Linked DNA regions of Homo sapiens: region 2 is linked to region 1. The links come from fine-mapping of genetic effects on gene expression. A gene starts in region 1. The other region holds a variant in brackets. All regions are shown on one strand. Distances are between the middles of the regions.

Region 1 (5,378 bases):
TTTTTTCACATTTAGCTACCAAATTGAGTAATAGAATTATTATTATTATTATTTTTAAGGAGAAAGCAAGAGGCAGAAAGAAAAGGATGTAAAGAATTTGGCAAATAGGAGAGATCCCGAAATCCCGAGATCTATTTTGCCCTACTGCTCGGCAACGTGGAAAAAACCTTTTTCTTCCTTCTGCTAGTTCTGTGTGTTTCCAGAGGGAAGAGTATCAAACATCAAGGCATAATACATATTATGGATAAAACAGAATTATGCTGGCTGGCCTGGAAACTTAGCCTGCTCTGTTTTAGGTTACAGGATTTTAGAATATGATTCCTTCCTAAGCCAACTAATGCCTGCACCTTTTTTTTTTTTTTTTTGAGACGGAGTCTCACTCTGTCACCCAGGCTGGAGTGCAGTGGCGTGATCTCGGCTCACCGCAACCTCTGCCTCCCAGGTTCCAGCGATTCTCCTGCCTCAGCCTCCCAAAGTTCTGGGATTACAGGCGTGAGCCACCGCGCCCAGTCAATGCCTGCATTTTTAAGGTGAAATATTATACAGTTAAGTGTTAAACAAGTGAAGAATCTCAACAAAATACATATTACCTTTAAGGCTCTAAATGACCAGAGAGAAAGAACTGTGACCATTACCATTAAAACGTTCACGTCCTGGCCTATACATTTCTTTTACCGTTGCCTTCAATTTCCATATATTTTGGTTCTTCAAGTTAGCTGGACGTTCTATGAGGTCAGGGAGCAAGTGTATATCCCTAAACTGCTGAGCCTCAACACTCACAGGATGCCTACCAACAGCATCCAACTCTTTTAAGAGACTTAAACACCCAGGTTACTGTCCAAATGAGCTCCCACAGCAAAGAATGATCCGACCTCGAATGTCAATATGCCAAACTTGAGAATGCTGCTCTAGACCACTGGCTTTGACTCTGACAGCGGTGGCCCTGACCATGGTAATGCTCTTTAGTAGCAACTGCTCTTCAGAACAATTTCTCAACTGCTCTGGGCCCAAGTCCCCAGTTTTGTAAAATAACCCTGTCTCAGAGTGTGCGACTTCTGGGCACAAATGCATGCAGTTTGAACAAAATGGCTGATGCAAAACAACCTAGTTTTAGTTATGTTGTTACACCAGGTGTGTGTATTGGATGTTATTTTCTCTGCAGGTCCCTGTTAAGTGGAAAATAAAATGGAATACATAATACAATTAGCTTGAAACTTTTTCTTTCTAGAAAGGAAACAAATACTGAGTGCCTACCGTGGATCAACCACTGTGCAGCCCCTCTAAGTCACTCCATTTAATATCACTGTCAAGTCTTCAGCTTGACGGAGGCCTATCACCTCCCCCTGGAAAAGGAGGTTCCGCGAGGTTGTGTAACTAGCACTAAGTCAAACAAAGAGTCCATAGGGGAACTGTATTGTTTCTAACTTTGCGTAAGTAAACCTCCAAGACACTAAGTGAACAGGGACACCTGAGAGACCTAGTGGAATGGTCTATTATGAATTCACTTTATAACAAACCCTGAAGGCCCTCTCGGAGTGTCCCTTCCTCTGCATTTTCTGTCAACGTCTGGTGCTCAGATGTTTCTTACCTGCACCCCTGCCCTGGTTTCTTTAACCCCTCTGGTCTTCCTTATTCCCTTCGGTCTATCTCAAGCTTTGCTGCCTGAAGTGCAGCTCTACTGAAATTCTGCTCAAAACCCCCTCAATGGCTCCCCTTCTTCCCCAAAGATAACGTCGTATTTTCCATGTTGGGCATTCAATAGCTTCCACCTTCGGGAACTATTGTAAGTTAAAGAAGTCAGTGCTCCATTAAAACCGGATGGCTCTTCCATTCTACAACGTGCCATGCGCATTCTTGCCCAAGCCTTTACTTCTACCGTTTCCTCTCCCTAGAATGCTACCTCTCACCCCGATCTAAAGCTGTCCTCCAGCACCACGCTTATGTGCACCCTCTCCGTAGCTGTCCTTCTCACTGCACACCACCTTGTATTACGGTTATGTGCGTCCGTTTTTCACTCTTCGCTATTTTTCCTCAAGGGTGGGCAAAAAAGCACTCAGAAATGAAATACCCTGTTAAGTGACCACACCTTTACGAGTGACAAAGAAAACGGAAGGGCCGTTGCGGGTGGACCAGCGAAAGGTTAAGCAGCAGCGCCTTAACCGACAGGTGACAGAGCATCTCCCCGGCGCCCTCCCACTGGAGCGCAGTCCCACGCGGCCGTCAGGCTGGAGGAGCCGGGCGGGGAGGCGGTCCCGCTTTGCTCCCGCGGGCGACCGGACTGAGCGGCCCCACCCAGCTCCGAAGGGCGCTGGCGGCCCAGCCTGGCTGGCCCCCACATTCCGAGCCCAGGATTAGGCGCCGGCGTCTCCCGAGCTCAGTAAGCGGGCTGAGCGGCCGGAGACCGCAGGGAGACGGAGATTCTCGACCTTTCCGGGGAGCACATGGCAGAGCCGCTCCTCAACTCGCGCAGGCGCAGAGCCACGGCCTCGGCCACCTCCCCTTAGCCCACCGCGAGCAGGTCCCTGTGCCATTACCTTGAGGGCCTCAAGTCCCATAAGACGGGACTTGCGGTCCTGATCCTTGATGATGAGGAAAGGGCGCCCATATTCATCGAAGGCGAGGGTCCCCATGGACGCCATGGTGCAACAACCGGAATTACTTCCCCCCAACCGGCGGAGACCGCTACGGAAGCGAGAATGCACTTCCCTTTCTCGGGAGGGCCCAAAAGCTTGCGCACGCGCAGCACAAGACGCGCGGGACTTATGTTTCTACTGAGACTAATTTCACGCCAGACAGTATCTTCTGGAATCGGCGGCCTTCGGGAACTTCTATTATCCAGGAAGCCGGGGAGGGGGAGGTTTGAAGACACTTAGTGGAAATCTTAGGACACACAAGTCAAGAGCAGATTGAATTTGTCATTTTTTAAAACGTTACCACTGATAGTTTCTCGATAGTGGGTCCCAAGGAGGAATTCATTGACTTAAAGCACTATTTCTTTATTTCTTCGCACTCCGGCTCCGAGAAGATGGTAGGACCCATTTCCGGTTTTTTTTTTTTTTTTTTTTTTTTTTTTTTTTTTTTTAAAAACGCTGTTGGAAATCTCGCGATGGAGGGAGGAGGAGGTGAGGCTGGAGCGGCTTGGCGGGTTCCTGGGGGCATGAGAAGGGGTGCGGGCGGGCCGGGGGCTCGCGGTCAGCTGAGGTCTCCACTGTCGAGGCGGTGACCGGGTGCGGGCGGCTGCTCTGGCCTCCAGCCTGGCCTTCGGTGACCAGAGCTCCTGGTCGCCGCGCGGTGCCCGCGCCGGTTCTGGCGATCCTTGTCGGCGGGCGCGTTTCCCCAGAGACTGTTCTAGGCTACTTAGTGCAAGTGACTCAGCCTTTGGCACGATCTTAAGGAATAGGGATAGTGGAGGCACACTGATGGATTGGAATCGCAGTTCTGCCGCTCTTCCTAGCTGTGGCTTTGAGGAAATCCCTTAACTTCTTTGTCCCTCGGGTTCCCTGTCTGCAAAGTGACGGTGGTAACAGTAGTGCCTACTCACAGGGCTGCTGTGAGATTCAAGGAGAACGGTGCCTGGCAAGCTGAACACAGTGTTGGTAAATAAATTAACATTTTGCACAAATGGTTCAGTAACTTGCCACTGGTATACAGCTAGTAAGAAACAGTTACACAGCCTGATGCAATGGGTCCCACACTCTTTTTTTTTTTTTTTTTTTTTGAGACAAGACTGTAGCCCGGGCTGGAGTGCAGTGGCGCGGTCTCGGCTCACTGCAGCCTCCGCCTCCCGGGTTCCAGTGATTCTCGTGCCTCAGCCTCCCAGGCAGCTGGGACTACAGGCACAGAACCACCACGCTCGCTAATTTTTGTATTTTTAGTAGAGACGGTGTTAACGCCGTAGTGGCCAGGCTGGTCTCGAACGGCTGACCTCAAGTGATGTACCCGTCTAGGTCTCCCCAAGTGTTGGGCCTGAGCCACCGCGGTGCCCGGCAGGTCTCACTCTTAAGCCCTGTATTATGCTGCCTCAGAAAGATCTTGGCAACCGCAGCTGTCCTCTAAATCTCTTATGCTGCCTTCCTCCCCGCCCTCCAAGATCATGACTTAATATTTGATAGGTTTAGATTTATTTGTTGAGGGTTTCCATCCTTGCTTCTCCCCTACTGCCATGGGCAGGGACTTAACTAATAAAGTTGTATTATTCCCAGACTTTATTAGGCACTCAATAAGTGCTGAAATGAATACATGCACTATAACATTTGACCCTGTCCTGAAACTCAAGAACAGACTTGGCGACTGTGTTCCCATCTACTCTGGGGCTGAGGCAGGAGGATGGGTGGAGCCCAGGAGTTCAGTTTACAGTGCGCTATAATCGCGCCACTGCACTCCATCCTGGGCGACAGAGCGAGATTCTGTCTCTAAAAACAGGGAGGACTGACTGTCATGGGATGGTTGGTGATCTGTTAACTCTTCATGCTTGGCATACTTACGCGCTAGACCTTGAAGTGTTCTTCAAGGACATTTTAGATTTTGGAGTCAGGTCTTATTTCACGTTAGCTTTGCCAATTCAGTGTTTCCTCATTAAAAATGGTGACTTCTGCAATTCATTTGGCTCCTTCGATTGTTGTGAAAAATAGAATGTCCTATGGCATCCTCTGTGTAGTTGATTCCCTGTCAAAACACTGGGGAGTGAGAGAGGATTTTTCCTAATATCAATAGCTCATGTATGTCAAAAGGACACAAATGACATTAGACTAGTATAAGAAAGGCTTCTTAAGGACATAAGAATATATGCTAAAGGGACATAACATATGCTGTAGTTATTAAACAGGTATGCACATACAAGTGCACAATGAACAGTCCTTATGAGTTGTGACATTCTGATATAAGCCCGCTTTAAACACGTGGCTAGTTACTATTCCTAACAGGCTCCTTCTCTCTTCTTGGCCTTTTTCTTTTGGCTTGAACTTGGATAAGAACCTTGGGTACCTTATTGTACATCTGTCACTGCCTCTAGCTTCAGCTGATCCAAATCTGCCACTAAAAATTGAAGTTTTCAACCAATATTAGAAGTCAATAAGCAAGCAGGGCCCGGACACAGTAGAAGTTAACCTCATTCTGTGTTTGACTTTAAAGGATGGACTACTAAGTGCTCAATGAAAGTAGCCAGTGGCCACTGCAGCCATTATTTAATAGAATGGCTCCTTGTTCCAAAGAACACCTGAAAGAAAGTTCTTGCCATTTATATATAGGATAGTCTGGGAGTCTGAACATGTTCCGTTAGAAGGATTTGTAGAAACAGTCTTGATTTTAGTTTTGAATATTCAGGGCCTGATTTTTACTGATAAGAATCAATACAGGTCCTGGCATGGAGGCACTTTAGG
Region 2 (5,378 bases), 78 kb after region 1:
TTATGACCTTAAAAATGTCTTTATTGTCCCTATAGTGGAGTTTTAATAGCAAATCAAGATAAATAAATCTGTTTAATTCACATGTTTAACTGGGAACTCCCATCCTTTTTAAAAATGGCAGTATTAGTAACTTTGAGGTAATTAATGATTAAATTTATTGACATTATCAATTTCTGTTCCTTGTATACAAGGCTTTCTCTGTGGGTTCATTTTTTTTTCCTGCTTGAATACATAGCTCTTCAGGAAGAGTTACCTGATGTGTAACAAGGTGGTAAAATGGAACATTTCCCAGCCATGAAGATGACACAAGCTATATTCCAAAGGACTGTAAAACAAAATGGCAGAAAACCAACTTTTCTACTCATTCAGATTTGACTCTATTCAAATTTGATTACTAATCAATGTCTTATAAAGAAGTTGGAGAGAACAAGAAACGGAAGAATAAAAATCAAATGAAGAGTTTTGAAGATCATAATTTACTTTTGGAAAGTGCTGTACCTTATTAAATAACTTCCTAACTGCAAATTAAGAAGCATTTTGAGAGGACTGCCAAAAAGAGTAGTATGAATGCCTTGCATTTTGGAAGATAGAATAGATGGTGACTGAGTCAGGTTGGTGATACTGCAATGCTAAGACAGGCTAATGTGGCTTTTGGCAACAAGGGAGAGGGCGTCTTTGGAAGATCATTACTTTCCCAGAGTTTGTGGAGGCAAAGGATGTTTGAATGCATTTTGTGGACTAGATATGGACTATATACCTAAGAAAGCCAGTGTGTGGCCTTTTAAGTCTTGCCCAAGAGGCCACATGGAGAGGAAAATTGTCTCCAAGAAGAGAGAAAATGGAGGTCTCACCATATTCCTAGAGACCAGAGAAGGGGTCTCCAGGAGTTCCCTTGATGAGCAGGAAAGTCTCATGTAGTTCTCTTGATGGACATGAAAGGGTCTTTACCTGCTGGAAAAGACTCATGCTCATCAAGGGAACTTCATGAATAGTTTTTATGGATGGCAGAGGGAAGTCTCAGAAGACCCCTGAAAGCACCATGACAAAAAGAGTCAGATATAAACACTTGCACAACCCTGAGAGCACAGATGCTAGCTCACTTCCCCATACTAGTCAGTGGGAGACTTCCTGCTGCCCTTGCCTCTTCTTTTTTCTGCTTGACCTGGAGGGATCAGAAGCCATATTTAGGGAGGAGGCATAGAAGTACAGCTGGGGAAAGGAGAAGAGCCTATGCTACCCTCTTCCTTGACTACAAGTTTTTCACCTGCAACACCCTGACCTGGGGGAGGGAGAAAAACTTCAACTGGGAATCAAACTTTGAATTTTGATGCTTATTGAATATTTAAAATGTGAAATTGATGTTTTGTTTTGTGATTTAGGTCTTTAAAAGTTTTTCATTCTCACAGTGAGCAGAAAATTCACAGGGCTGTTTTTATCCAGAAGTAGAAGGACTTGTCGACTAGTAGTTTTAAAGGGAAAATGAGAAGCAGAAATTAGTAATTTTCAGTTGCTTTATGATTATATCCCCACTTTTTTTTTTTTTTTGAGATGGAGTCTCACTCTGTCACCCAGTCTTGAGTGCAGTGGTGTGATCTCAGCTCACTGCAACCTCCACCTCCCGAGTTCAAGCAATTCTCCTTCCTCAGCCCCCTGAGTAGCTGGGATTACAGGTGTGCATGTTTGGATTTTTTAGTAGAGATAGGGTTTCTCCATGTTGGCCAGGCTGGTCTCTAACTCTTCACCTCAGGCGATCCGCCTGCCTCAGCCTCCTAAAGTGCTGGGATTACAGGTGTGAGCCACTGCACCCAGCCATATATCCCCAAATTTTGATAGCTCGTTATAATGGTTACATTTATCTGACAATACTTTTATGTTGCCTTCACTCTTGAGGGGATAAAATTCTAAGCTTTTTCTTATTACGTCAATGATATTGTTCCATTGTCTTCTGACACCTATTGCTGTTGAAGAGGACTCTGTGTCAGTGCAATTGTCATTTGCGTTTCTGAATGTCTTTGCAAAAGCAGCACTGACAGCCTTTGTTCTGGACCAACTTTTCAAGGCTGTTTGTATGGCAAGATAGGGATGCTGTCTTCTTCTGGAGCAAATGGTAGGTTTGCTCAGAGCATTGGAGGTTAGAGATAGTGTCTCCCTCAGAGACTTCAGCCCTCCTCAATGAACTGAAATTTTAAAATTTCTTTCTTGTGTGAGATAGGAGATGTTTTTGAGCCCAACTTTGTCTGTTTTGGCTTGGAGCATAGGGAATATCTTCTGGATAGGAATTTTACCAGATTTAGAGAAATAATCACTTTAATGAACTTGTCTTGAGTATGTATTTGCTTCCAGGTGGTCATATCCTTAAATTGCAGTTGGCATAGCATTTTTCTATTGATGATTCCAATTTACCAATACTAATTTTAATTTTAGCAGACATAGTGTGCATTTTTCTCCTCAATATTCATTTCAGAGCATTTACTCTATTTTTTTTAAATTGAACTCATCCAGCATTCCTTTATTACCCAATCTCTTGGGACATTCAGATCAGAAGTGATTCTCTTCCTAAAGCCATAGTGATGCCAGCCCCATTAAACGCTCCTCACACTTCCCTTTTCCCCTTACTCCTGCTAGATATGTTCCATTTCCCATTTTATGACTTTTCACTTCTTCAAACTGCCCTTTATTGCTAAAAGTTCCACATTGTAATTTGAAAAGTAGAACAGTAAAAT[A/G]TCCATTTCTGAATGATCTGCTAACTACTGGGCTGTAATTGTATTCAAAATTGATAGTTGAGCTAAAACTCTATTATTCAACTTGAGAGATATTTTTGTAGCTGATTATTCCTGCTTATGGCTTTACCTAGAGCTTTTATTTTACAGTTATATTTTTGTACCACATTAGATATTTTCCCATCTATTTGCACAAAGCTAGACAAAAATGTTAACAAAGACCTAAAAGTCATATGTTAAACCAGAAATAGTATTGGAATTAGAAATGATGCAGTGCATCATCTTTCTTTTATTTTTTTCTGAGATTTATTGCTATGGAGAAGATTCAACCCAAGAATATGATGGCTAGTACGTTTTACCAAATTCCCCAAGAACTAAAATTATGAAGCTAAAACTTCTTTCATATACTGACTGGAAATGAAAAGAAAAATATGTTCAGATGAATTACCTAAGTTAGAAAAATAAATGGCAACCGTACAGATAAAACATGTCTTACTTATGGATGTTAGATGGGGTGTTCTCCTAGTGAGAGCTGTTTCTTCATTTTAGTTCTTCATCTTTCAGGTTTTTTTTTTATAATAGTGCACTTTAACCCAGGAAAAGTTGGGCAACTGTGTGGGATGGCAGAGAATTGCTGAATATTTTTTCCTCTAATTAAAGGCAGGGGTTCTTAGCCTGGAATTCATGGAGGTCTGAGAGGTCCATAGGCAGGTTTTGTACACAAGAGAGGCGGTATCTTAGTTTATTTTGATGCTATGACAAAATGTCATGGACTGCGTGATTCATAAGGAGCAGACTTTTAGTTCTCACAGTTCTGGAGGCTGGGAAGTCCAAGATCAAGGCACCAGCAGATTCAGTGTCTGGTGAGGGCCTGCTTCCTGATTCATAGATTGCACTGTGGTATCTCCCTAAGCTGACCCATTAGATTCTCCAGGGCAGGCTTTTACCAAGCTGGGCCCATGGCCATCACATGAATCCTGTCAAACCTTGTGCACTTGTTTTTTAATAGGGGAAGAAGAGACTTCCTGGAATTTCTGGATTCTAGGACCTCCTTCCCTCACCCAAGACACCTGGATCTGTTCTCTTGAACAATAAGCACCATCACTTGTCATCAACCTGAGGGTATCATGCTGTCATCTCACTAAAGCAAGCACCCAGGCGGGTGACATCCCAGTATTCAGAACAAATTCCTGTCATCTGGGACATGGTTGGGCCAGTTTAATCTGTGTCACCTGACCAACTCATGCAGAACTGTTACCTCATGCTTGGAGATGTAGGAACAGGAAGAGTTGTGCTGGAGATAGCAGAACAAAACTATAGGGAAAAATACAGAAGCCAGCCATTATTATAAAAATCAACTCACCTTAAGTATCTATAATGGTTAATTTACATTTTCAATGTGTTAGAAGCCCATGTTACTGCTGGAACATTAAGACACATGATAGCTTGGCTAAGTGGTCAATGTTACATCTATTTATGTAGGTATAGAAAGCTCTAGAAGATATGCACCCATCTATTACTTGAGGATTTTTTTTTGAGGAGGCTAGACTTTAGAGGCTTTCCACTTTCTACTTTATTCACTTTTAATTTAATTTTAAAAATTTATAATGAGTATATTTTATTTTCTATCATCAGAAAAAAGTAAAAAATACGAAGACCAGATTGGGAAGGTGAGATTTCACATTTTTATTCCTGGAGCTTACCCAGGGGTGGGTTGCTGTCAAAATCTCTTGGGGGGTGTTTTAACACAAACATTCCTGTCTCCCTATCTCCTGTTGCCAGCCACTCCTGGTGATCACTTGCATTGCTCGGGTAGCTCGTAGCGTACCCAGGAAAGGTTCAACCTTATGAGAACATTCTGGAAGAGGTACTCTGGAGAAGGCTTTACCCTTGCTGGACCGCAGGGCATCATTTTACTTGTGGCAGTCATCTGAGGCTTCAAACAGCTAGCTGGACCTGTGGCTATCATCTGGCCATGTTCGATGGGTGGGCTCAGACCTGTGGCTATCATCTGGCCATGTTCAGTGGGTGGGCTCAGTGGAAACTTTGCCAGGGAAGATGAAGATTGTGGAGGAAACCGAAAGGACCAAGTATTCCTTCTCTCTACTAGGGGAGGGACGTCAAAGCAAAAACTGGGGAGGGGCCAAATTTGTTGGCTGACTTCAGCAGCCCTCTTTTTACTTCATGAGAGAGAGAATGTTGGACATAACTTCCTGAAGTTTAGGGGCATTTCAAGAAGATTGGGAAAGAGCACGTCTTTGGATCAGGAGATTTCTGAAAGCAGGATGCATGCTGTGGTGCCCCAGACTAACAGCTGGAGGACTCACTTGTCCCTCTTCTCCATGCCTGAGGAGAGCTGGACTAGGCAAGTCACTGAATTTTTCTGTGCCTCAGTTTCCTCATATGGAAAATAGGAGTAATAACAATTGCTGTAATGATTCAGTGCATTCATACGTATGCATGTAGCATTTAACAAGTATTCTCTGTCACTTTTATGATGTATGGTGGGAGGTTGTACAGGCCTGCTCTGGGACAACTAGACCAGGAAAGAGGAAGCATGAGTGCAGTGATGGCCCTCTTTACAGTGGCAAGAAAACCCTTGGTGCTGACATGGCCCCTCTCCTGGCCTCCTGGAGCCCAAGGCTCTGAGCGTCTGTG

Direction of the effects. Alleles are on the strand shown, and positions count from the first base shown. SD is a standard deviation of normalised expression in the study named.
With allele G in place of A in region 2, the expression in transverse colon of the gene that starts at base 3,092 in region 1 is lower (small effect, 0.26 SD a copy in GTEx).

What was found. PIP is the estimated chance that this variant, and not a neighbour inherited with it, causes the effect.
Region 2: its variant is the best candidate, but not a certain one, in a credible set for the expression of ATPSCKMT in transverse colon (GTEx, PIP 0.58).

The regions. Positions count from the first base shown.
Region 1 is chr5:10,247,602-10,252,979 of GRCh38, reverse strand. ATPSCKMT (ATP synthase c subunit lysine N-methyltransferase) reads left to right here and starts at 3,092. Exons shown (of 5, transcript NM_199133.4): 1 at 3,092-3,122. The coding sequence starts at 3,107. It overlaps CCT5 (chaperonin containing TCP1 subunit 5), which reads right to left and starts at 2,700. Exons shown (of 11, transcript NM_012073.5): 1 at 2,535-2,700. The coding sequence starts at 2,639. RefSeq lists silencers at 1,550-1,772, 2,103-2,242, 2,313-2,382, 3,133-3,192, 3,203-3,322.
Region 2 is chr5:10,169,664-10,175,041 of GRCh38, reverse strand. No RefSeq gene overlaps it. Among named protein-coding and RNA genes, the nearest start is that of ATPSCKMT, 78 kb to the left of the region's middle. The variant A/G (reference allele first, on the strand shown) is at 2,724.